2 separate regions of the Homo sapiens genome follow, and region 2 is linked to region 1. Evidence: fine-mapped expression QTL. Tissue or cell type: whole blood. Region 1 holds a variant in brackets; the other region holds the start of a gene. All regions are shown on one strand. Distances are between the middles of the regions.

Region 1 (2,500 bases):
GAACATGAGCTTTAGAGTCAGACACACTTCAGGCGAAATCTCAGCTTTGCCATTTTGTGGACTGAGAGGTATTAGGCATGTTGCTTGAAATCTCCAGGCCTCAGCTTTTTCACTTCTAAATTGGAGACAATCTGTATCCTAGTTTAAGTACTAGAGATAACCTATCAAGTGCTGAGCATACAGTAGATACTAATATAAAAGGAGCCATAATAATTGTCCTCAAACTTATAGAATATAGCTCTGAAAATGATCCACAGGGACAAAGGTGTGAGACCTACAGAGACAGTGTGCAAACTTGCTAGTTAGAAACAGAGCTGAGCCCAGAAGCCCAGTCTCCTGGTCTCAGCCTTATTCGTAACACATCATCTTCAGCATGTGGCTTGAGTCAGAGCAAGGGGGAGAATACTCCCATGGTAACTATAACCTATTTAAGAATTAGAAGAGAATTTCCATTTCTATATGGTGATGGGATAAACTTTGATATAAAGGAAGAATGGGCTTTGAATCCAGACCAATTTAGATCAAATTACCAACTCCTCCATTTATCAACTACCTAACCTCCTAAATTTTATTTTTCTTACCTGTAGAATCAGTATGAAATAGACTCTGTTGGACAGTTGTGGGGATTAAAGGGGTAACATGTAAAAAGCCTACAAGTACTGTGCCTAGCACTCTCCTAGATATGCTGAACTTCATTCATAGGTGAGGCTAATACCTGGCTCAAAATCTTTTTTTTTTTTTTTCTATTTTATGTAGAGACAGGGTCTCACTACATTGCCCAGGCCGGTCTTAACTCCTGGGATCAAATGATCCTCCCACCTCACACTTTCTATACAGCCCCAACTTCTCTCATCAGGGGACAATACAGCATCCAATCATGCAGAGCACTAGGCTTTGAAACTGTACCACCCCAGTTTGAATTCTGGTCCCACCACTTACAAGCACGAATGATTTTGAGAAAGACCTCTGTGTGCCTTACTTTCCTCATCTGTAAAATATGGGATCACAATATATACCTCACTGGAGGTTGTCATAAGGATTAAAGAAGGTAATACACACAAGGTGCTTAGAAAAGTGTTGGCGATAGTCAGTGTAAATCATTGCATCCCTAAAGATATGATGATCAGGAAGCCTTTGAATTCTTCGGCCTTCTTGTTCACTCTGTCATATCCTGGGCCATGTTAGTTACTGCTTGAGATTATACCATGTCAAACGATTTCTAATTCAGGCATCCCACTCTCTGCCCGAAATCTTTTTTTTTTTTTTTTTTTT[TTA/A]TTTTAAGAGACAGGCTTTTACTGTCACCCGGGCTGGAGTGCAGTGGTGCAATCTCGGCTCACTGCAGCCTTGACCTCCCAGGCTCAGGTGATCCTCCTGCCTCAGCTTTTCAAGTAGCTACTACAGGCACAAGCCACCACACCCAGGTAATTTTTAAACTTTTTGTAGAGATGACGTCTATGTTGCCCAGGCTGGTCTCAAACTCCTCAGCTCAAGTGATCCTCCCACCTGGGCCTCACAAAGTGTTTGGATTATAGTCATGCACCACCACACCTGGCCCTCACAGTGTGATCCACGGGCCAGAGAGGCTGGCGTGACAGGAACTTGTTAGAAATGCAGAATCTGAGGCCTCAGCCCAGACCTGCTGAATCAGAATCTGCGTTTTTACTAAAATCCCCAGGTGATTCACATTAGCATTACAGTTGGAGAAGCACTCATAGCTAGTTCCCTTATTCAGGTACTACCACTACCCTGTTTATTGCCCCCTGACACTGCCAGGTCATTCTCCATCAGCACTAACCTATCTTCATCCAACTGAACCTCCACTGAAATCATTCCTCCATGTGTTAATGTCCTTAGCCTTCGTGTTCCTTGTCCTTTTATTACTCCCACAGAGTAAAACTTCAATCTTGGCTGAACTTACCTAGCCGCCTATTCCATGCTTGCAGTGGTAGCTGCCAAGCACAGCTGGAGAACTGATCTTACCCAGCAACCTGATTCCGTTCCCTTCATCTGGGAAGATGACTTTCCCTCCTACTTCACAGAGAAAACAGAAATTATCAGAATGGTATCACTTACCATTCCACTCCAAACCTCCACACCTGCCTGCATCTGCAGCTGTACCCACCCCCTCCTCTTCCTCTCCTTCTGAAGTGCTGGAGATAAATGCCCGTCCCTTCGTGTGGGCTCTGGGTTACATCCCACCTGTCTTTGCAGGAACCTTAAGCAACTAAATATCCTTTCTCTTCCATCTCTAAATATCCAAACATAGAGATGTTTAGACCTAGAGCTATATGCCTGGATCCTACACACCTCTTGCAGGTCCCCTCTAACTGTCTCTACCCTTTGAGCCCAACTTCTCAAAAAAGGTACCCATACTCAGTGTCTTCATATTCCTGCCTCCAATTCACTCATCTAGTGTTCAAAATTGGCTTCTGTCCCCACAACTCCACTTAAATTTCTCCTGCTTGAGGTGCCAATCTTGATTGCTAAATCCAACCTCACG
Region 2 (2,630 bases), 130 kb after region 1:
TTTTCAGAACACTCTCCCATCCTATTTCAGCTCTGCCATTTTAACCCTCCAGATAATTAAGTTAAACCCCAAGACTTAACCAGCCCCGCCCCCACCACCACCAAAAAAAAAAAAACCTCAAGGTACTCAAACAATGGGTCACCTTGCACAGCGTAACACACACGGGTTCCCTAAGAGATCCCCTATAGGGAGAATCGGTAGGTTAATCATTATTAAAATAAGGCTTTTATCATTAACCCTCTATTTCCTGGCCTGAGTCTGCGTCAGCCCTGTAACCCTTTCGCTCCCAGCTGGCTACACCAAGCCACACCTTGCCAAGCCCAGTCATTTTACCAGACTAGCGCCCACTCCCCCAAGTCTGCGTGTCAGAAGATCACCTCCCGCGGGGCATTTTCAGGAAAGCGCCTGACACGTGCCGGAGACGACCTACTGTGCGCTCGCCACCTGTCCTTCCAATAGGCTTTCCCGGACTTTCCCGAGTTTGGGGCAGTGGGCTGGGAGCTGTAAAGGGCTCCCCTCGCTTGCAGAACTCCCAAGTCTAAGATGGCCCGCCCCCTTCTTTCGCCAACCTGGATCCCCGCTTCCGGGCAAGAGGAGGTGCCCAGGGCTCACAGTCGAGACCCTCCTCCCACCCACCTCCCGAGGACTCCCGATTCCTCCCCGAAGCCTTCCCTCTCTGCACTTGGCTCTACAGGCGGTCGGATGGGAACAAACTTCCCGGCACCCCCAGTGACCCTGCCCAACACCACTCTGCCCTAAGGGGCGCCAAGACTTCTCGAGACCTGCGGGAAAGCAGAGGTGGGAAGGGAGAGAGAGGTGAGGAGTACGCAGAGGAAGGTGGAAAACCAACAACCGCGTGAATCTTACCTATCAACTCCCTGGGAACGTCAGAGCTCTCCTCGGTCATGGTTGCCCTGTAGGTGTGGGGGTTATTGCAGGTCCAACTCTGATTTATGGCCCCCTGCCCTTCCCCGAACTCCTCAATTTTTTTAGAGAGGCAGATGCAGCTTGCAAATGGAAGTGGGCAAGAAAAGGGGGGGCGGAGACAGAATTTTGCCGCGCGCCCCCCGCCCCACCAAAAAAAAAAAAAAGAGTTGCAAATGCGAGGCGGATTTGCTGCTGCTGCTACATGACGCCTCCTCGCAGTTCCCGGCGGCTGAATAAGGAGCGGACCGGATTACAAGCGGGCGCGGGGCGCGGGGCGGCTGTGGCGCCTGCTCCTCCTCCCGGCTCGCTGGTCCCCGGCGGGGCTTGGGCCGGCGTAGCTCCCGCCCAGCCTCCGCGCCGCACCTACAGCCCTAGGTGAAAGCGGAAGGCGTGGGAGAGGGCGGGGAGAGCGGCGCGGGGCGGGGGGAGTAGGTTTTCCTCGCGCTCCTGCCGGGCTCCGGCTGGGCGGGGGCAGCTCCGGCCCTCCTCCTTCTCCTCCTTCTCCTTCTCCTCTTCCTCCTGCGTTTCCTCCTCACCTCGCGAGAGCCGGCCTCCGCACCGGTGCGAGGCCGGCCTCCGGTGCCCGAGCGCTGGGTCCCCGGCGTAGGTCGCACCCCCAGGAGAGACGCTGTGCGGTGCTGCGGTGGCGGCGGCGGGCACCGCGCCCCTCCTCGCAGCCTCCCTCCCAAACCGCAAAAGCCCTGCGTCTGGAGAGGGGGCGAGCGGGCTCGCGAGAGAGCCCGGGAGCCATCTGCTGGCTGCGAGGGAGGAGAGCCGGGTGAGCCGGGCTTTCCATTTCCTTGTCCCCACTCCGGGCGGGCCAGGGGACCCAGAAGACGGGAGACGGCAGATTCTGCAGACCCGTCTACACGGAAGCTGGTTCTTTTTGGGACCCTCTTACGCACTTTTTCTTTTTCAACCCTCCCGGTGACATGTCACTTCATCATCGCTATTCTTCATTTCTGATGAGCTAGACGAAACCTGTGAACACTAATCATACCGTGAGAAGACACTTGTGTGTGTGCGTTCAGCTGGTGCTCTGCAGCCGCAGTTCGCTATCTCAGACATTCCCGTTGAGAGCGCCTTGGAAAATGCCTTTCACTCGGAAAAGTCTCTTTTATCCTCGGGGCATATTCAGGAAGCTGAGCTTTAATCACTGGAGCCTATGTAAGCCTGCGGATAGGTCTGATCCTACCTGGGCCCAAACTCCCTATGACTTCCCTGAGCTCCATCCCCAGAGGTTCAACTTCAGGGCCAAGAATACTTTGTGCCTCAATCGCTGCTTTTTAGCCTAGGGCTGGGAATGTCCCAGACTGTCTAATCAGGTTCTGCTTTTAAAGGACAGAAAAGGAGGAAAGGAAAGGGAATCCATGCACTTGGCAATCTAATTTTAAACACTGCTGTTGACCTTGGACCCCTTAGAATCATCTTCAGCCCCACAGCCAGGCCTTACCACTAAGGATTTGCCAACCTGGCCCCTTCCCACCCTCCTTAACCTCTCCCACTCCCTTCTCTATTACAACCAGACTCACTGTTTGCTTCCTCCTTCCTCTTAAGGTTATCTGATTCTTATCTATGTTTTCAAACCCATCCCAATGGTCTACCTTCTTTGTGAATATTTTCCAGGGATTTTCAGATTACTGTGATCCCTAAGCCTCTACAATATGTATTGCCTGAAACACTTTTCTAAACCCAACCATATG

Evidence for each region. PIP is the estimated chance that this variant, and not a neighbour inherited with it, causes the effect.
Region 2: it holds the start of CARMIL1, and the variant in region 1 is fine-mapped to the expression of CARMIL1 in whole blood (INTERVAL, PIP above 0.99).

Annotation. Positions count from the first base shown.
Region 1 is chr6:25,407,067-25,409,566 of GRCh38, reverse strand. All of the region lies in intron 2 of CARMIL1 (capping protein regulator and myosin 1 linker 1), which reads right to left. The region is part of intron 1 of LOC124901281 (a long non-coding RNA gene); the gene reads left to right. Among named protein-coding and RNA genes, the nearest start is that of CARMIL1, 130 kb to the right of the region's middle. The variant TTA/A (reference allele first, on the strand shown) is at 1,273.
Region 2 is chr6:25,278,073-25,280,702 of GRCh38, reverse strand. It overlaps CARMIL1 (capping protein regulator and myosin 1 linker 1), which reads right to left and starts at 1,329. Exons shown (of 37, transcript NM_017640.6): 1 at 868-1,329. The coding sequence starts at 907. RefSeq lists a silencer at 1,132-1,601.